Linked DNA regions of Homo sapiens: region 1 is linked to region 2. Evidence: fine-mapped expression QTL. A gene starts in region 2. The other region holds a variant in brackets. All regions are shown on one strand. Distances are between the middles of the regions. Region 1 overlaps LOC105371460 (a long non-coding RNA gene). Region 2 holds the start of CD1D (CD1d molecule).

Region 1 (11,066 bases), 28 kb after region 2:
GTCTCGAACTCCTGACCTTGTGATCCGCCTGCCTCAGCCTGCCAAATTGCTGGGATTACAGGCATTAGCTACCGCACCTGGCCCTCATTAATAATTTTTAAACTACTGATTACATGTAGAAATTAGTTTGGATATGCTGGGTTAAATATATTATTAAAATTAATTATTGCCAGGCACAATGGCCCATACCTGTAATTCCAGAATTTCGTGAGGCTGAGGCAAGTATTACTTGAGCCTGAGTCCAGGAGTTTGAGACCAGCCTATGCAACCCAGTGAGATCCTGTCTAAAAAAATAAAAATAAAATTGTACCTCGTTCTTTTTACCTTTTTAATATAGCTACTAGAAAAATTTCAGTTACACACATGGCTTGCATTATACTTCTCTTAGATAGTGCTATATATTCTATAGCCATTCTAACTTCTAAATTTGGGACTAATCATATTGTGCATAGCCTCACTCAACCCTCAGGCCTGACTCAACAATGTCTGGCTTCATTCCTTGACTGTTGCTGCCCATCCTGTGCCAGACTGATAAGACACTCCCATCAGCCACCCAGCAATAGGTACAGGAAACATAACCATGGACAACAGTGCTGCCTTAAGGCAATTGTGCTCTACTTATTGAAGCTCTACTATTCTATCTATAGTGTAGCTTTACAATTTTTACAACCCTGTTTTATCAGTCCCATTTGATGTTAAGTGTTTATATAAGGAAAAAAGCACTAAAAGAAGACAACTATTAGGAACACTTTGGTTCCTTCTCCCCAGCCTTGTTTAAACTTTTTAATTTACATCTTATTAAATGTAGCTGTATATATTAATATATTTTTATATATGTGCAGATAAAACTATTGGAAGGGAAATTTCTAAAATGTTAACAATTTCTAAAATGTTAACAGTGTTTTCTCTAGGTAAAGATAAAAACAGGTGACTTTTGTTTCATAATTTTATGATTTTTCTGAAATGTCTATAATATACATATATTGCTGTCATAATCCAAGGGTAAGAGACCTCAATTTATAATCAATCACCCAAGCCTGATAAAGCAGAGCAAGCAAGTCTGTTCCACGTCGCTATGAAGTCAAGAGAAAGAGTGGGTTTCCTGTGGGGTTTGCTCACCCAAGAACCAAATGAAACAAGTCAAGCTGCTGGCTGATTCTCTTTAACCATCCCAGTAGACTGTCTGCAAAGACTCTTAGTGGAAAGAGAAGGAGGTAGTCCAGGATTTTGAGGATGAAAATATAGATTCAATGAAGGTGAAGGGGGAATTTCCTGAGTAGATCTGCCTACATCAAGCAGCAGATGAAGTCATAGGTTCCAGAACACTATATCCCATCTTATTTAGGCACCAGCCTATTTAGGCACCAGCCACCTCACCCCAAACACACAAATGATCAGAAAAAAATGGGGTACTTGAGGAAAAGCAGCAGAATCCCCAAAGACTCCCAAGGACCAAGATCATTTCCCACTCTGCCCAAATATGCCTCCCTTGCCTCGATGTTTGTCCATGCTGTCAAGGTGCTGTAGTGTGAGTATGTAACCACTGGTATGTCTGACTGAGTGATCAAGGGTCACAACACAAGAAGAAAAAGGACAGGAGACAGCAGTATAATTTGTCCTCATTTAGCATGTCCATGTTCACATCTGCATCCCAACAACCCCTCCCTACTAATGAGGAACTCCAGGAATGTACCAGAAATGCCAGTGACTCCACCCCACCCTAACCCCACCATACCTTAGCCAACAGAACATAAGGAAAAGAGTAAGAGCTTTTTAGTCAAACAACGCTCAAACCTTGGTTCTTTCATCTCCTCCGTCACTAACAGCAGTGAGATTTTGAACAAGTTATTTGTTTCACAATCTATAAAATTGTGGTCAAAGTGCCTCCAGTGGGAGGGAGACCAGCCAGGACCCCTTTCCTAACAGGCAACTTTGTACATTTCAGTAATGCTCCCCAGGTACAGTAAATACACAGTCCAGGTAAAATGGACCTCCTTGTAGTCCCTTCTACCTCTCCCTCACCCTCCCTTATTCCTTTCCTCTCTAGACTCTCCTAATGGACTAAACATCCTCCTCATATTCATTTTGATCGGAAAAAAAAAGGGAACCGAAGCTGACCTTCTACATCTCCCCCTGCACACTGCTTCCAACACACACACCCCTCCCCCTGCCAAAGCTTGTTCACAACAATCCTGATCGCGTTCTTGCACCTTATCAGGATTCTCTGCACATGCTATGTTTCAAATGGACACATCATCTAGGAAAAGTTTTCACTGGGCCTAGAAAGAATCCTTAGACCCAAAAGAAAGAGGATAAAACAAATGAATAACTGGCAAAAGGAAAAATGTACGCTTGACTTCATAGCATCTCTGAAAAGAAAACTAAACTCAGAAGTACCATTTTGAGTAAAATTGTTCTTCCCTTTCTTGCTTCCCCTTCTGCTGTACAGTTTCTTTTCCCAACAATCTTTTCCTCAAATAGAGTTGTATGAGCCACCTGGGGAGAGTCAAAGGAAGGTTGGTGTGTAACCCCAGGGAATTCCCAATATGAGGGAATTCAAGTGAAAATGAAATGAACAGAGGGAAACTATTTAGTGACAAAGAATCTAAATTCCAGCTTCTGAATCCCAGAGCCATTTTTCAGACATTAATATGAAAAGAGAAAATACTGGCAATATTGAGGCCATCATAAAGAATATGCTTTTACAATGAATTAGGCAGAGGAACAAGGAGTGGTTTTTTGGTGTGCCTTGCTCCAGGGCACCTACATCTATCCGGGAAGACATGTCATAATTAATATAGCTTAAAGGGTGGCAGAAATTGAACAGGCAGTGAAATGAGGAAGATTTCTAGTGCCTCCTAAATGGGGACTTCACATTGTGGTGTCGTGATATGCTAGGAAGTAGTATGAATTCCCAACATTAAATATAATCAAATGAAAACACTACTCCCAAACTAAAGAAAGATGAGCCTCTTCACAAGTCTATTCTCTTCACAGGATGTAAGGATGACTCAGAGTTGATCATCCTTACAAAAATGGCCTACAATTCAATATCAGCAACAAGCAAGAAACTATTCTATTCAGAGAATATTCAGAGAAATTCCATTTTCAAGTGATACTAACTCAAGACCTACAGAGTCTTCATATTTATTTTAATTTCATAAAATAAGCCTAAGGCTGGAAGAAAAATATATAGACACTTCCGACAGATTTTGATACTAAAAGCAATCATCCATATCCAGCACCTTTCCATGTAGCCAGTGACGAGCAAGCTGGGTTTAACTAAGCAAAATGTATGAACATAAATGGTGGGGGAAAAACTCAGATCTGTGGAAAAATGATGGGGACTAATGGGGGACGGGAAGCACAGAGCTGTGAAAAAATGACGGGGAAGAGGGAAGCAAGAAGGTTTAAAGGGGTTTAGCAAAAACAAGAGCTTTACATTCACTCATCTACTCATACTGACTGTATGCCAGGTACTAGGAACACAATGCTGAATAGGACATATTCCATGTCTGCATGGAGATTACAACTAGTAAGGTGGATATACACCTAAGCCTGACATAATACAGCATAATTAAGTACTAAAGTCGGGGCAAACCAACTTGAGGAAAGACCCCTTAACCCATCATGGGGTGTGAGAGGTCACGAAAAGCATCCCAGAGTAAAGAAGGTCAGAAGCCAAGGCAAATGCCAAGGTGAAAGGCATTGTGAACAAATCTCCTTTCCTACTCACCTAATGTCCTTTTTACTTTCACTTATGGCCCAGACAAAAGGCGATGATCAAAAGAGGTGGGTAAACGGACCAGAGGATGAAACCAGCTGAAACCATGATGTTATAATCACACATACAACTATGTGAAAATTTGAGAATACAGGAGGGAGAGTGTAACTCTGAGACTGACAGAGGTGATGTTTAGGCCAAATAGTGGAGGTTGGGTAAAAAAAAAAATGGCAAGAGAATCGTAGTGGGAGACATTGACAGAGTATTCATGGCTGATCGATTTCATCAGCCCAAACAGAACTGTCACCTAGAGTCCACTGCTCAAATTGGCTCCTTTTATTTTTTCCTGGTAAACTAGCCAACATATGTGGAGTATGCTCAATTGCCCCTTCTAGAAGGCCTTAAAAAAAAAAGTGTTTTTTTTCTCTCTTCAGTATTTTATTTGATGTTTCTGTTAGATTTCTTATCCCTAAGCAATGGCAGAAAAATATGTTTGCCAATATACAATCAGCTCTGAGAGTCAAATGAAAACTGTCCTTCTTTACATGTATAGGTTTCTCCAGTGCTGCATGAGGGCGCAGTTGTGCTCAACTTTTTCTCAAGGTCAATACTACATTTATAGATTTCTTCACCATTGAGGATTTTGGTGTTGGATGAAATGAAGGCACCAAAAGATGCTTCACAGCATTGGACATAATATATGGGACTTCTCCTTCAAGTGGATTCTCTTGAAGCTGAGGAAGGACGGCACACTAAGTGAAGATCTTCCCACTTACTGCCTGCACAGACCCACTCCCCTGAAGAATGCTTCTGTGGAACAATCACATCTTAGGGGAAATCACTGACATATTCTTCTTGGTGAGTTGCCGTCTATCTTTCACTGTCTTCCTGTTGCTGAACAATTTACAGATTGGAGGATGTACAGCATTTATGGACCTTTCTTGTAATATTTCAGTATACTGTGATACCCTGGAAATGTCCTGCTAACCAAACCTGAGTAAAAAAAGAAAAAAAAATACATGTCTCAAATGTATATTAGTATTATGGGAATCCAACATTTTTGAGAATTCAAAACAAAGGAAGAAAACCAAAATGAGGTATAGCCAAATTTCCAACTTCCTTCCTTCCTTCTTTCTCTTTTTTTTTTTTTTTTTGGAGACAGTATCTCACTCTGTCGCCAAGGCTGGAGTGCAGTAGCATGATTATGGCTCTCTCTGCAGTCTTGACCTCCCAGACTCAAGCGATCCTCCCACCTCAGCCTCCCGAGTAGCTGGGACCACAGGTCCAGTCACCACCATGTCTGGCTAGTTTTTGTATTTTTTGTATAGATGGGGTTTCACCATTTTGCTCAGGCTGGTCTCAAACTCCTGGGTTCTGGTCAACTTTCATTCATCCATTATCACTCTCCACTTTCAACTATTACTCTACATATTTTTTAAATGAAAAATAGTATTGGTTTTATTGCATATTTCATGCTTTGAAAGAGATAATAAGCAGATTCTGGAAGTTCTTTGAAAATACAACCATGGTGTTTTTGAGAGCTAGACTAAAATATGACTTTAACATGATATACAAAAGAAATAGCTTGGGTCAGAACAAAGGGAAGGGGGCCTTAAGAATGGGAAGTGGAGTGTATAACAGAGAAAGATGTGAAGAAGCAAAATACTTTGGAATTAGCTGGGGTAGGTATGGGAAGGAGCAGAAGCACACACAGAAAGGTAAAAGATAAATCGATGTCATTCTGCAATGTTGCTCACCTGTATATCTGTGTTCTCTACAACTGAACTCTCAGCATCTAAGATTCTAACTAATGCATCCCCACCACAGAGCTCACAGACCTCTGCACACAGCCAGCACTAAAGAGTTTTTGAGGGCACAAGAAGTTTTACTCTCTCTTCCCCCTCTTTCACC[A/G]TATATCTCCCTGACGACTTCTTCAAACCTAATACATCAGTTTCCTCTCTTTTTCCAATTTGTTTCACTTCCCACTCTCTGACCTAGAAGTCAACCCAGGGTTAGGTCCTCTGTTAAATGACAGGCTGTGGAGGCCAGAGACAAAATGGCAGGTCTGAGAGTTCCTATCTAAGGCCACCAGACTTCAAAGAAGCAAAGAGGCTACAGAGAGGTAGAACATAGAGGTGGAACCAGAAGAGACAAGGATCGGAAGAGAAGCAGAAATAAGTGAAATGAAGTAGGATGGTTCCGATCTGCTCGTGCCTAAAAACATTTACTGTGGGATCCTTTTCTTAGGGTCCTTGGCGTGACTCCTGGGGCAAGGGCAGAGTGTTAGAGGAGCCCTGTCTAGGACAAAAACAAGAAAAGGTACTCACGAGGGAGAGAAGGATGAAGATTCCAGGAACTGCGTGTGAGAAAGAGGACAGAAACAGAGTATTTAAGACTAGTCGGAGCTAGTATGAAATAATAAAGGGAATCTGTAGGTATTATAGAGGGAAGCCAAAGATGTGGGAGGAACTGAGCGTTAACGAAGGCAAGGCAGAAAGTGACCCTAGAAATGCTGTCGGGTTTCCAGTCCCTGCTCACACTTCATTCAATGTCTCATCCAAAAGAGAAACAGCAGAATTAAGCCACACCCACGTAGCTAGTCCACACTCGATTCCCCCGTGCAAGCAACTTTTTCTCAAATGATTTTCTCAAAAATCTTCGTGACTCAACTAGTCGCGAAGATTTCCTCTTAAAAGAACAAACTGCTACCACCCTGCAAAAACTACAACACCCATAGTGCCCCGCGCACAGCCCGAGTGACCCATTCTCTTCCGATTCCCACCAGCTAACGGTCTTAGCCAATTTCCTCGGCCGGGAAATGATTTGGAGCACATGCGCACTTCCCCTCCTTGTCCTGGGCTGGCCTCCAACTTGGAACGCCGGCGAACCGCCTGACCTCTTCCGGCGGCCTCAGCCTGGGACGCATGCGCACATCGAGGCTCCCCGACATCAGGCGCGGGTCTTTAATTACATATTTTGCTATGCTCCAGGCTATGCATTTGGAACAGTGCTTTCCTTTTTATCTTTATTTTGTTTCTTTTGCTTAACTTCGGGATGCAGCAATGAAGTGTTATTAAAAGAGCCCTAAAGCTGAGAGTGAAATTTGGACTCTGTAACAAACCAGCTGTGGGGTCTTAAGCAAGTCACTTAAACGTGGGGACCTCGGCCTCCAAACCAGATGACACTCGAGGCACAGCCTGCCTCCTATCGCTGCTGGAAAGACTGTGGAAATGGTACTGTTGGTGCCCATAGACCTCCAGACCCCCATGGGACAGCAGCTGGGCATTCCTCCACCATTGAATGAAGTGTGAGCAGGGACTGGAAACCGGACAGCAATTCTAGGGCCAGTTGGAAGGAGAGGTAGGGAAAGAGAAGCTTCCTTCGCCTTTCCCTCGAGCCCACGTCTCATCAGTAAGCAATTCCTGACAGTTCTCCACCTACATATCTTCCCACTTTTCTCCATCCACACTGCCATTTCTCTATCTCCACTGCCATACCATTTTCTCTTGCTTAAATGATTTCCCTGTTTCTAGTCCCTACCCTACCGGCTGTGGGATCATTCTAAGATGCAAATTTGATCATTAAAATATTTCATGGCTTCTCTTGGCCCACAGAATAAAGTCCGAACACCTTAACAAGGCTGTCATTGCCTGACTTCTTCCTAGTCTTCCAGACTTCCTTCTCTCCCTCTGTGTTCCAGTCATCTTCAGAAACTATCAGTTTAACAAACCAGGCTGCCTCTTACTTCAAAGACTTTTTGCATGTAGAAACAACTTAATGAACATTCTGAACTCTGCTGAACATATTCTCAATGAGGTTTTAACCAGTGCCTTCAACCATACTCTCAGTTCTTCCAGCCCTGACGGATTCTGTAGTTTTCTGTTTACTTAATTATTAGAAGTCCAGTCTAATGCAGTCCACTTAAAATCTTACATCTCATTTCAAGTTTTGCAGTGAGATTTGCAAAACTTCCTTCCTTCCCCTCAGCACCAGCCAGACTTGAGCAGTGGAGCTTGGTTTGGGGAAGTGGTGTATTCTGTCCTTTAATAGAAGTCTGCCTTTCCCAAAAATACTTATTGTGTTGGGACCCTGAGGAAAAATCAGGGAGGGCTGGGAAGTGAGGGCCAAAAGTCATTTTGCCTAACTGGGCATTTAATTGCAATTGTCTGTTGGTTCTCTCCACCTCTCAGTTGAAGGCTGATTGGTCACGAATACCTTCCATTTGGAAGGTACCCAAATGCTAGTTCTTAATAGGCACATGGGTTAGTTCCCTGGGAGCTCTCCCCAGTACACAATTCCTTGATGGGAGATCTGCTGCAGCTTAAAACTGTTACTGGTAGAGGGTCTTGACTGCAAGTTGTCCAGATTTTTGGCGTTTTCAACAAAGGATTGGACAAAACGCACAGCAAAGCAAGGAAAGAAGGAACAAAAGCAGAGATTTATTGAAAGTGGAAGTACACTCCACAGTGTGGGAGCAGGCTGAGCAGAGGCTCAAGGGCTCTGATGCAGCATTTTCTTGGGTCCAAATACCCCCTAGAGGTTTCCCATCGGCCACTTGGTGTTCACCCCATGTAAATGAAGTGGTGGCCCACAATCAGTCTGATTGGTTGTGGAAAACAACCAATCAGAGGCTGAAGTGAAGTTACAAAGTTACACTCCTATGCAAACATCTGATTGATTGCAAAAAGCAACCAATCAGAGGTACTTTCAGTTTCCCATCTGCCCTGCAGAAAAGGTAGGAGTTTTTAAAGGGAGCAGCTTCTGGTCCTTTTGTTACTTAGGCGTGGAAAGTTAAGGCTTTCCTTTCAATTTAGTTCTAAGGAAGTCGGCATGAAACCGCCTTAGGTTCCTTGCCTTCAGACCCTATTCTCCTGCCTCATAACTACTTCCCACAACCCCTCAGCCCTGCTCTTGGTGGTATAACTAGGTTCCCTGGCTTGGCAGCCAATTCTCTTGGAAGGAGAACCGGCAAGATGGCCCACACCCTGTTGAGTTTCACACTGTTCATTTAACTCACAGTAAACTCACACCGATTTCCACACTGTTCATTTGACTCACACATCCTTGCTAAACCAAGTGGTAAGAGTGATAGCTCTTTCCCTGTCATCCTTCTCTCCCTGCTCTAGTGATCACAGAGTACAGATCAACAAGCTCATCAGCAGATATCCAACCAGAGATTGAGATAACAGTCTCTTCTTGCCAGCCCACCAATTTCTATGAGTGATTCTCTTGGAGACCCCTCACTTGGAGGAGGTGAGAACAAAAGTCACATCACTCATTTCCGTGGCTGGGTACACACGACTCCATCAGTGCCCTTTCTCTTTTTACCTCCATATTATCTTCTAGGGGATGGTTTTAAATCTAGGAGATGTTAAGGATGGGGAGCTGTAGTATGGTTCGGGGTAGCAGAACTAACTTTCCACTTTTAATGGCACCTCTAGGATGTTAGCGCAGGACAATATATTCCAAGTGGCCTTGGACAAACCCAGTTCTCCTCTCTTTCTTGCTTGTTATTCTCAAGAAAAACTGTAAAATGTGCTGGGAATACAATATCCTGAGAAAGGAAGGAACCGCTTGAAATAGACTGGGCCTCCTTGTTCCTGTCCCTCCTAGGGAATGTAACATCTGGAGTTAGAGAGGAGGTGCCAGGGACAGCCCAGGCTTTGTACCTCTCTCCCCTGGAAGCAGGATGCCCTTCCCAGCTTTGTCCAGTGAGTCACATGACCCCTGAGGTATATAACTCATAGTGGGCTGCCTTTTGGGGCCCCTCACTTGTGGTGCACATGGGGCATGTACGGGCAACACTCAATCCTGCCCAGGAAGCTTCCTTGAGCCTTGAGGGCTGCCTCACAATGGATCCTAGGCTTCTTTTTTCCCTTGCTGCTTGCCTGTAAGTAATAATCCCACCTCACAAAATTTGTTGCATGTGAGTGTATCTCCAGCAGACATTGGTAGACCTTCAGGCCAGGATGTAGTGGGCAGAAGTGTGTGGGCTCCTATTTCTGTCGATTGGCATAGTGTCGATCTCTGCTGTCCTGCTTGTAGTGGGAGTCTTCTCTTGGGATTGGTTATTAGTGAACCTGCCTCACAAAATTGATGCTATGAGCAGGGTCTGATCTGACAGAACCATGGCTTTCTGGTGAAGTGGGACGGTGATATCCCCCTGTATCTGACCCAAGGCAGAGATGTCAGCCTGGGCATTCAGGAACTGACGGGACATGCAGCTGGATGAGTCATGGGGAGGGAAGGATGATAAGCGAAACATAGTCTCCCCACCTCCCCTGCAGATGGGAGTGAGCTGGCTGCATAGACCGAGGAGAGGGTATGGAATGTAGAAACAGGATAGAGCAGTGTACAATTCCCTGGGTGTTGGGCACTTACGTAATCGCTCATTCCCAGGCCAGAGAGCTTGGGAAGTGGGTATTCTGATGGACCCTGAGGCACTTGAGAGAGAATGGGAAAGAGGTCCTCAGACAGTCCCTGGAACATCTGAGAGGGAACCAACACACACAGGGTGGGTCTTCACAGATGGGGAGACCGCCTATCTAAAGGATGGATATGGAGGAAGGCCAGGGAAGTCTTACGCAGCCTGGGCGGTGTGTTTGATAAAGGACACTGCAGACCCAAATGTCTCAGGCTGAATGGTGCAGTTAGAAATGGAGCCAAGGTCTCTGGGTCCCCACTGAGTACCAATGGCTCCATACTCCTGTCAGGATAAAAGGGGGAAGGAGAAGGATTCAGACTTTTCTGGGGTTCTTGTGCCCTGGGGCCCACATTACAATATTTCCAGGTCCCCTTAGGGGAAAAAAAGTTAAACTGATGACATCAGGAAGTTTGGAAATGAATATGGTAGCTCATGGTACCTATTTGCTTGTGGTGCTTATCTGCTTGTGGGTGGGGCCCTTTGGGCCATTTCAGGTGCCAGTGATCATGATTCCATCACTAAGTGTATTGTAGGCACTGACATTTTGGCTGCTTCTGGAACAAAATATCACCACTGCCTGAGGGGGTATGTCCTTTCACAGCTAAGAGTTCAAGCCATTAACAGTGGGGTATAGGCACTCCTGCCTGCCACCTAAGCTACTCAGGACCCATTGGGTTACTAAAAAAAAAAAGCAGTATTACATATTAAATGGAGAACAGGACATTACTTAGCTAATTCAAAACTTGCTACAGATAAAAATGTTATAAGCTATGCTTTCACAGTGTAACTGCCCAATTTGGCCAGTCAGAAATGCCTTTGGGGCATGGAGACTCACAATGGACTGTCCCAGGCTGAATGCCAAGGCCATCTGGGCTGGAAGCCAAAGAAGTATCCCAGATAAAGTCAAGCAAAAATGTT
Region 2 (10,961 bases):
AAGGAAAAGGGAAGCCAGGAATGAAGGGGAGAGAGGTTGAGGAAAGGGAAAGGGGAGACTTACGTTTGCCTCTTAAACCGGGAGGTAAAGCCCACAATGAGGAGGAACAGCAAGCACGCCAGGACTGCCAAGGCAATCAAGCCCATGGAGGTGTAGCTCCCACCTGCTCTGGAGGAACATAGGCTGTCTCTCAGCACAGGACCCCTCTCTACATATATCCAATCCCCTGGTCTAGGCATGTGTGAGGGTACCAGGTGCTTCTTATTTCCTCCTCCACTTAAAACCCCAATTTCTATTCCTCATAAGTTTAGATTCCCCATCTTGTTTTCAGTGCCTGGGCATCCCAAATTCAGCCCACTTTGACATTTGCTAGTGTAGCATAGAGGGAAAGGGCAACAGCTTTGTAGCAAGGCAGACCTGAATCTAAATCCAGCCCGTCCACTTTCTATGTGGCTCCGGGCAGTTAACCTATCTCCGCCTTCATTTCCTCATCTATATAACGAAAAGAGCAGTACTTGCTTCAAAGAAAACTGTGAATGATGAGATGAGATATTATATGCAGATTCATTGGCCCCTACACAGGGAGCACTCAACCAACCAAGCTATCTTTGCTAACCTGCCTTCCCAAAGGCCTGGCTCCCTTTAAGCCAAGGAATGAATCGTCCTGGGATTGTTTATTCGCTGCCTACTTCTGGATCCCTGAGTTTTGTAGTCTTGTTTCTTCTTGTATATAGAGAGCACTATTTCAATCCTTTTAGACTTTCAGGTCTTTATTTCCCTCCTTCCTGTGTCTGGAACCCCTCTCTCTATCCTTTTACTGGGGGCCTCATCTCTGAAACTCCTCTAACCTGGGTATATCAAGCCACATCCCACCCCAGTGCCTCCCTCTATGCCTGAGGACCACCTCCTGCCATTTCCAGCTTGGGCCCAGCTTTTTCTCACCCCAGTAGAGGACGATGTCCTGGCCCTCTAGACTGCTGTGCTTCACCCGACAGGACAGGCCAGCTGCCTCCCCAGCCACCACATCCAGGGTTGCTCGGAGATACCATGTCTCGTCAGCATTGGGCAGGATGTCCCCTGGCTGAGTGCCCTGCTGCTCCTGCTCACCCCGCATCCACTTCACCCATACAGGCTTTGGGTAGAATCCTGAGACATGGCACACCAGCAGCAGACGGCCAGGGCCAGGACTGGGGCCACGGGACAGCCAGGCCTTGGGCTTCACTGTATCCAACAAGGGAATGGGGGGGATCTTAAAGTGAAAACTCTGCATTAGAGGCTCCAGGCCTCATATCATCCTTTTTGACTTTCAGGTCTTTATTTCCCTCCTTCCTGTATGCCCCTGACATGTTCACTTCTGGAAATGAAGTCTCCCACAACTTTCAATCCATTTGTCCCACCTTCTTCAGGGAGCCTGCCCTGATACTCCTTCTTCTTCTCTGGTCCCAGCCTCCTATGAATGCCCCTTGTCTGTTCCCCTATAACACCCTTTGTTTTGAAGTAACATATGTAGCCTATTTCAAGCATTGCATTAATTAACATCCCCCTACCAAGCAGGGATCCTAACTAACTGCCTGACACCTTTCACCCCCAGTTGTTCATTAATTGAATTCATAGAACCCAAGAGGTGCTCAGTTGATGTCTGTGAAATGAATAAATACCCTCACCCCTTATCCAGCCCCTCCTGGGCCTTCCTCTTCTTTGAATGCTCAAAGGGATGAGAACCCTGGAATGGAAAAGCCCGTTTGGAGCCCTGAAGTGGAATGCAGGGAGTAAGGAAGGCAGGCTGACCTTGCTTCTTCAGTTCCGACTTCCCTGACTCAAGGAGGCCACTGACAAATTGGGGGCAGGTGCCATTAAGGAGCCACTGCACTGTTTCCCTCGTCCACTTGTCCTGGTTGAGCACTTGAATGGCCAAGTTTACCCAAAGTGGGGCCTCTTGGGTTGGCTCCCAAGAAGTTCCTTGGAAACTCAGGATATCTTTTCCTTGAAATGCTACATGGAAGAAGTTATTTGAGGCGTTCCCAGGGTGCACCTCACAGCCAGCGGACACCTGGAGCTCCAAGGGATCTGTGGAGAGGAATGGAGAAAGATCAAAGAAGGGTTTAAAAGACTGGGAGAGATGAAAGAGAAGAAATTGATGTGCAGGTTATAATGGGGACCCAGACTTCAGGGAAAGGAAAGTAAGTGACCTGGAGTAGGCAGGAACGAGGGACACTTTGAGGAGTCAAAGCCTGGGACATCTCCAGGTAGAAGGGAAATCAGAAGAGGGTGGACAGAGCAGAGAATCTCATCAGGTGGTGCCACAGTCTCCCAGTTGAGTTTCTGTGGCCATTCTCTCCCCTTGGGTACCGGCCCAGGATCCTATCCCTCAGCTCACAGGATAAGCGTAGCATTTTGGCGAATTCCTTCACGTCCCTGGTGAAGCTGCTTCGATAAACCCGAAATATATGCTGCAGCGTCTCCCACTGCTGGTCGCTGAACGTGCCCTGGGACCAAGGCTTCAGAGAGCGGACGGTGTCCGAGTCGTTGCTCCAGCTGTGCGTCTGCAGCTCCCCCAGCCACGCCAAGCCGTCGGTGCGCGTCCAGCTGCTATTGGCGAAGGACGAGATCTGGAGGCAGCGGAGGGGGAAAAGCCTTTGCGGGACTGGGAGAGAATGAAGATTGGAGGCGTGTAGCAAGTGGCCGGGAGAGCAGCCAGCATAAAGAGAAGGAAGAAAGAAACAAGAGGAGATGAGCTTCAGGAGGCGGCTGATGCCAGCGAACTCTGTGCCGCGCTGCCTCTCCCCGGAGCCAGGGAGCAGCGAGTTTTCTACCTAGATCGCGCCAGTGCGTCCCGGGTCTCACCAGTCCCCATCAGGCGTTGCCCTCCCCGTCCCTACCCAGCTCCCTCTCTCCGCCCTCCCGCGAGTGCACTCAAGCGCCCTCGTTCCACCCACCTTCAGCGCTTCCCCAAGCCTGGAGGAGCGCCCAGAGCAGCAGAAACAGCAGGCACCCCATATCGCCCGGCGTGGGGACCTCGCGGAGCGCCGCTGCGCGCCGCCCTCTGACCTGCGCACTCTTCTCCCCCGCCGCTCAGCTCACGTCCCTTTCCGCTGGGTGCCAGCCAATTCCCAAGCCCAGACCCCGGCAGCCCTCCTCGCTGGGCTTGCCGGCGGTTTGCTGCTTCTGCCGAAGGGCGCCCTCGCCCTTAGCTGTGCGAGCTGCAAAGAGGTCGGGGTCCCAGGAATCCTGGCGCCGCCGCTCACTTCAGTAGGTTTCACAACCGGCGTGTCTCAATTTCCTGTTTCAAAGGAGACTTTGGGTCAACGTGTGGGACGCTTTACAACCATTATTTATGTTTTGGAAGCAGGACATAAGGTTGTGTCTGTGTTACAATTCCAACCATGGTAAAAATGCAAAGGGAAAAAAGGATCAAAGTCCTTGCTTTAGCAGTACATGTCTCTAGGTGGAAAGACTATGAGTGATCTTAATTTGCTTTACATCTTTATGTTTTCCAAAATTTCTCAAGTGCAAGTACCACATTTACAATAAAGTAAACGCATGAAAATTAATTTCCTCAGTTGCACATTGAGAGAACTGGATTAGGTTGGCTACAATTCTTTACAACTGTCATATCCCAGGATTCCTCCACCTCAGTGTTCCCTAGCCTCTCTTTCCTCCTGTCATGGTCCTTGCTCTCCCCTCCCCGGCCTCTGCTCTGTCTTCCCTGTCTCCTTTTTGGGGACGCGCCCCCAGACTCTCTTCCTCCTCTCCGCCCTAGGCTCTGCCGGCATACCTTCTCCTCTGGCTCCTGACTCATTCACTTTCCAAATATGCGCCTCTGTCTTAAACAGTAAGTGTAAGATGACAGTGTGTACCTGGACAGCCAACTCGCCACTTCTCACACTGAAAATAAGAAAAAGTGACCAAAAATCGTGGTTCTAAGCCTTAGCTCACCTGGAGGAAAAGACTCCTCTTTGGCAACTCAGAACCTGGGCTGCAGCCTGACACCTCCCTCTCCCTCACTCTTTTTATCCAATCTATCTCCAACTCATCTCTATTTCACTTCTTTTTGAATACCTCTTGAATAAATTCCTTTTTCTATATTTCCACCGTCACCATCACCCTAACCTTTTGACTGATCTCCTGAAGTAGCATTCTTGGGTAGAAAACAAAATCATTAGCACGGCCTGCAAGATTATGCGCCCTCTAGCCCTGGTGTCTACCTTTTGACATCACCTCACACCCCAGCATCATTTGCTCTGTACTGTAGCCTGGCTGTTAGCTTTCAGTTCCTCCACTATGCAAAACCTCTTCCTGACTAAGGTCTCTGCACAAAGTTCCCTCTACATGAAAGCTCTTGACCTTCTCCTCACCTCACCCCCTCCCAATGCCTAGTTATTTCCACTAAGGTATCAGTTCCAAGGTCACTTTCTCAGGGAAGTCTTTCCAGATCTGCCAGACTGTGTGACCCTAGGCAGGAGAAGTAGGGCAGTCCCAACCTCCACTGCTTGTACACTAACTGGCTTTGAGAAGCCATCCTCTCAGCATGTAGCAGAGTTTATAATTATAGAAATGGCCATATGTCTGTCTCCCTCTGTGTCCTCTTCTAAATCAGCTGGAGAGGTGCCAGAAGGCAAGGATCATGTCTCCATAATCTGATTCCTCCCATTCTGCTAACGTTAATGTTTCCCTTCTCCCATATCCTGTTGCAGCAAGAGTCCTAGAGAAAATAGGCTACTGCACCACACTCTAGGCTGGGATCTTGTAGACAGCCCTAACCCAGCCTATCTAATTATGTGTAATTTGCCCAAAAAAGCTTAAAATAACATAGTAACGTGTTCTTGTAACAAATAAGGTGTTAAATTATTAAATTTGGATACAAAATTGCCTAAATAATGGATAGGAGGGAAGCTATGAGAAATAAAAAGAAAAATAATTATATGACTCATGGGGCAATATTTTTAACTTTACTTTCTTCAAATTTCCAAGCTCCCTTTAAAAACTTGAACAGTTCTGTTTAGTTTTTGTGTATCTTAAAAATTTTAAGTGCTAACATTCTTGCACACTTAAAGACAAGAAGCTGGTTTGTGTGTGTGTGTGTGGTTTTTTTGTTTTTGTTTGTTTATCAACAGAGGCCAGGCTATATTACCTTCAGAAGTTAGGACTATCTGGAATTATACGGATATTTTTTCCCAAAGGTCAGTTGAGTTAGACACTTTTTGGCTATTGGAACTTTCACTGCTTTTTTTCTGGGAAAGGAACCATTGAATTATGAAACGTTTTGCAATATGTTACCTAAACAAAATATTTTATAACAAGACTGACTCAGAATACCCTAGCACAGAGAGATGGTGATTTACTCAGAGCCTTAAAATAAGCCCACGGTGGGTACTACATGATCTCACTTATATGTGGACTCTAAAATAGTTTACTATTTTATGGAAACAGAGTTAGGGTAGTGGTTTCCAGGAGCTGGAGGGAAGGGGCAAATGTGTTAATTTTGGTCAAAGGGTTTCAGCCTCTCAATTTTGAGAGGCTGACCAAAACCTTGGAGCCTGATCATAAGGGACTTACTTGGTTTCAGTTCAGAATTCACAATTCACAACGTCAAATTAGTTGGAATCTTATATGCTTTCTTCATGTTTTTGTTATCCTAACCATAAGGAGACCATTTAATGTACAAAGGATAGCTGCATATGAGAATTTAAGATTCTTGAGAGGACACATCAGGGAAACTTTTATAATAGCTATCAGGAGGATAATACCAACGAACTAAAGAACTCTTCTTAATAGCACTTTCCACAAGCCAACCTGATCAAAATCAAACAATTCAAAGTTCAGTCAATAAAGTTTAACAGCATTCAAGTGCAATTGCTCATAGTCTTTATTCAGAGCATAATGGTGATCAAGGACCGTAGTTTGCTGTAAAATGGCCTGATTTAAAGAGGTATTCATTTTTGTAAGTAGCCTGATAATACAAACCACAGTAACCTGGAGATCCACTAAAAGAAACATAAGGATTAGAAAACCTTGTGATAGCTCTCTTACCTCTCGGACGTCCAGTCCCAGGAGCAAAACTCCAGCGACTTTGGGCCCCGCCCCCGTGAAAGTGGAGGGCGGCCGATGAGGACGGTTCTGAGGGAACTAGACCAATGAGACTAGCCTGGGGCGGGGCGCGGGGCCAGAGGGTGGGGCAGGTGGCGGCGATGGCAGTCCGAGGTCTGGCTCCGCGCAGTATATGACAGTACGCCAGCAGCGGGATGGCCCTAGCAGTGGCGGCGGCTGCAGAAGCCCAAGCAGCTGCGGCCGCAGTGGAGGCTGGAGCTGGACTGGCGGCGGCGGCACCTCTGGGAGTTTAAGATGTCGGGGGTGGGGGGGTCGCGGGGCAGCGCTATGGGCTCTCGTGCGGACGGCTGGGGCAGGACAACATCACCGTACTGCATGTGAAGCTCACCGAGTCGGCGATCCAGGCGCTCCAGACTTACCAGAGCCACAAGAATTTAATTTCTTTTCGACCTTCAATTCAGTTCCAAAGACTCCAGGAGCTTGTCAAAATTCCCAAAAATGATCCCCTCAATGAAGTTCATAACTTTAACTTTTATTTGTCAAATGTGGGCAAAGACAACCCTCAGGGCAGCTTTGACTGCGTCCAGCAAACATTCTCCAGCTCTGGAGCCTCCCAGCTCAATTGCCTGGGATTTATACAAGATAAAATTACAGTGTGTGCAACAAACGACTCGGATCAGATGACACGAGAAAGAACGACCCAGGCAGAGGAGGAATCCCGCAACCGAAGCACAGAAGTTATCAAACCCGGTGGACCATATGTAGGGAAAAGAGTGCAAATTCGGAAAGCACCTCAAGCTGTTTCAGATACAGTTCCTGAGAGGAAAAGGTCAACCCCCATGAACCCTGCAAATCCAATTCGATAGACACACAGCAGCAGCAGCGTCTCTCAGAAGCCATACAGGGACAGGGTGGTTCACTTACTGGCCCTGAAGGCCTACAAGAAACCGGAGCTACTTGCTAGACTCCAGAAAGATGGTGTCAATCAAAAAGACAGGAACTCCCTGGGAGCAATTCTGCAACAGGTAGCCAATCTGAATCCTAAGGACCTCTCGTATACTTCAAAGGATTATGTTTTTAAAGAGCTTCAGAGAGACTGGCCTGGATACAGTGAAATAGACACTTGGTCATTGGAGTCAATGCTCTCTAGAAAACTAAATCCATCTCAGAATGCTGCAGGCACCAGCCGTTCAGAATCTCCAGTATGTTCTAGTAGAAACGCTGTATCTTCTCCTCAGACACGGCTTTTGGATTCAGAGTTTATTGATCATTTAATGGATAAAAAAGCCCGAATATCTCACCTGACGAGCAGAGTACCACCAACACTAAATGGTCATTTGAATCCCACCAGTGAAAAATCTGCTGCAGGCCTCCCTCTGCCCCCTGCAGCTGCTGCCATCCCCACCCCTCCACCGCTTGCCTTCAACCCATCTGCCGGTTTCACATCCTCCTCAGATTGTAAATTCTAACTCCAATTCCCCTAGCACTCCAGAAGGCCGGGGGCTCAAGACCTACCTGTTGACAGTTTTAGTCAAAACAATAGTATCTATGAGAACCAACAAGACAAGTATACCTCTAGGACTTCTCTGGAAACCTTACCCCCTGGTTCAGTTCTATTAAAGTGTCCAAAGCCTATGGAAGAAAACCATTCAGTGTCTCACAAAAAGTCCAAAAAGAAGTCTAAAAAACATAAGGAAAAGGACCAAATAAAAAAGCACGACATTGAGACTATTGAGGAAAAGGAGAAAGATCTTAAGAGAGAAGAGGAAATTGCCAAGCTAAATAACTCCAGTCCAAATTCCAGTGGAGGAGCTAAAGAGGATTGCACTGCCTCCATGGAACCTTCAGCAATTGAACTCCCAGATTATTTGATAAAATATATTGCTATCATCTCCTATGAGCAACGCCGGAATTATAAAGATGACGTCAGTGCAGAGTATGATGAGTACAGAGCTTTGCATGCCAGGATGGAGACTGTAGCTAGAAGATTTATCAAACTAGATGCACAAAGAAAGCGCCTTTCTCCAGGCTCAAAAGAGTATCAGAATGTTCATGAAGAAGTCTTACAAGAATATCGGAAGATAAAGCAGTCTAGTCCCAATTACCATGAAGAAAAATACAGATGTGAATATCTTCATAACAAGCTGGCTCACATCAAAAGGCTACTAGGCGAATTTGACCAACAGCAGGCAGAGTCATGGCCCTAGAACTCTGCTTGGACCAGAACATGTGAATAAACTTAAGCTTATTTATTTAAAATTCCAAATGAGTTGCTCTAGATTCTAAAAAGGTGAAACTTTGGCTGTTGAAAGTTTCAGTATTAGTAAACTTCAGTTACTTTTTCTTTTCCATTTTACTTTGCTTCCCTGCATTTCAAAGCTGCTCTTTCTGGTTCTCCCCACCACCCCACCACCGAGACTTGTGTTTGTTAATGGAAATAATTTTTTAGGAATTGGGGATCCATTGTCTATATTTCAAATCATTTTTTCCTCAAAAACTTGTGTTTGTTATTAGAAATAATTTTTTAGATATTGGGGATCCAGTGTCCACACTTAAAAGTTGTATGTGTTTAAAAAACAACAACAGTAGTGTGCAAGGTGAGATGCTTTTGAATAAACGTAAGCCTATTTTCTGACCTTTCTTAATGCAAACTCTTTGCCTTAAATGGTAGGATATTTAGAAATTTGCACAAAATTAAAAAAATAAACATTGTCTTGGAGGGTTAAAAAATAGAAAGGTGTACGTGTATAGATTCACATACACATATGTATATACAGGCTGACTTGATCTAGAACATTAAATCCACCCTGCAAGTTAACCCCCCATTGCAATGGTTGCCTTAAGGTATTTGCTAGTTGTGTATATAGTGTGGTTAATCACTAGCTACACTGTTTCCCACTTGATTAGAGCAATGGGAAGCATATTTTGGCCTACCAGCATCTGGAAGTGTGTGCTCAATCTGTATGTGTGCAGAGGCGGTGTGGATGTGAGCGTGCATGAAGGAAAAAAGCTGCTACTCCTAGTAGGCCAAACGCTCAGGTTAAACAACTGACGAGTGTTACTGTAGGGTGTTTTTTTGTTTTGTTTTGTTTTTTCTATCAAATTGCAACTTTTGTTGTGGAAGACAAAAGCATTTCCATTTCAACGAGTTTGTCAGCTTTATTAATGTTGGGCAAAAATTGATATGTCATGAAAATGAAACAGATCTATAGTTTTGGGACAAAATTATAAAATTAAATGTGTAGGTAACCTATTTATATACTGCTGTAAAGTATTTTTTGAAGAGAGATATGCAAAGAAGCTATTACCTACATAAGATGTATACTTAAAGATTTTTTTTTCATCCTGGTGCCAGGAATATAAAAAAGAGTGGATATATTTAACCATAACATACTGTGATTCATCAAGCAGCACAAACTTTCATTTCATGCAGTTTATGTGTTGACGTTGATTTAAACTGTCACTTGTTTTATCATGTGGGAACATAAGTTATGTGGTCAAAAATATAAGGATTTTGAACTAATACTGATTCAATTTGCATTGTCTTATTGTATTGTCTTTTCAAAGTGCTGCCAGTTGAAAAGGGAAGCATTATGTTTACAAATCTGTTTTGAAATGTTTGCCAAAATTTTGGTAGTGTCTTTAATAAAGATGTTTGTCTCCAGCATCCAGAAAAACAAATAAATAACTTTGTTGTGAAAAAAAAAAAAGAAAACCTTGTAATAGCCAAGTTTGCCATCCACTATGAAGGATGCCTGCAAACCAATTGTTAGCTGCTCCTGTAAATACATTATGTGTCTTTCCCCTAAACAAAAAAAAATTCCTTAATGTATTTGGTGGCAGCATCTAGAGGAACAGCAATATTAGCTACCTTTTTAAGTAAGTGTCAGATAGTAGTAAAATCAGAGAAAAGACAAGTGCAACATTCAGTTTTGTTCAACACCACATACAATGCCCAATAGGGGCATAAAGGAGATCTAAGGCTATAAGATGTTTCATTAAGTGTTTAGTTAAACAAAAATGTTTTAGAAAGTGTCTGCAACCCTGGAGGTCTCACTGGCTCCAAATGCAAGATTTTTCCCCAACTTGAACAGATTGGTTTCAAACTCCATACAACTAGTACCCCACTGCTGCCAACAGTGAGCCCCCAGGAACTTTATTGGAACCTTTCCTCCACAGAAAATAACTGATCTTCATCTGTTTTGAGGTTGGTTCTAATTTCAGTTATTGACCTCTTTGGCCTGTGAGTACCATGGGTAATTCCAGGCAGAGCTTTTTGGAAGGCAGGAGTGAGCAAGACCAAACAGAAAGATCCAAGCCAGCAAGGAGGCAATGTACAACAGAGTACACAATTTCTCCATAGACCCAATATAGGATCTCAGGGGCTGAAAATGAGGTGAAAAATACCTAGTGGTGTTTGAGCAGAGGTCAAGTTATTAATAAATTTATCTGCCCATAAGTGAGCATAGCTCCTGAACAAGGTCCAGTGGGAAACTGACCTTTTTGTGGTCCTTTTATAGCATACTGTAAGGGTACATAAACACGTTTAGTGGAAAGACACCTCACTACATTTAATCTAGTAAGATCATATAAGCAATTACTCTTACCCACATAGGTAGTCCCCAGGTCTTGAGTTTGCAATACTTGGAGGCACAATATCCCTTCTGCAGGCATCACTTGGATAGATTTCATATACTTGGTAGTAATTAGGTTAATTATTGGAAAGGTTAGGGTATTGTTTCCATTGAGTGCAGGAAGCCAAATAACAGTGATGCTAGAATATCAGGGATAGCTTTCCATTCTTCCTTTGAGATTTCAGGTGGACTCTCGCTGGGAAAACAAAGAGGCACTGGCATTAATGGAATTGTTTTATCATTTGGGGGCATTAGTCCACACACCCCAAAATTGCTCTG

The links. PIP is the estimated chance that this variant, and not a neighbour inherited with it, causes the effect.
Region 1: its variant is fine-mapped to the expression of CD1D in whole blood (TOPMed, PIP 0.94).

What each region holds. Positions count from the first base shown.
Region 1 is chr1:158,145,315-158,156,380 of GRCh38, reverse strand. The region is part of intron 1 of LOC105371460 (a long non-coding RNA gene); the gene reads right to left. Among named protein-coding and RNA genes, the nearest start is that of LINC01704, 10 kb to the right of the region's middle. The variant A/G (reference allele first, on the strand shown) is at 5,636.
Region 2 is chr1:158,173,138-158,184,098 of GRCh38, reverse strand. It overlaps CD1D (CD1d molecule), which reads right to left and starts at 3,204. Exons shown (of 6, transcript NM_001371762.2): 1 at 2,937-3,204; 2 at 2,378-2,644; 3 at 1,789-2,067; 4 at 943-1,221; 5 at 64-163. The coding sequence starts at 2,997. It overlaps LOC105371460 (a long non-coding RNA gene), which reads right to left. Exons shown (of 5, transcript XR_922187.3): 5 at 10,885-10,961. It also overlaps the pseudogene ELL2P1. RefSeq lists an enhancer at 2,674-2,733 and a silencer at 4,146-4,195.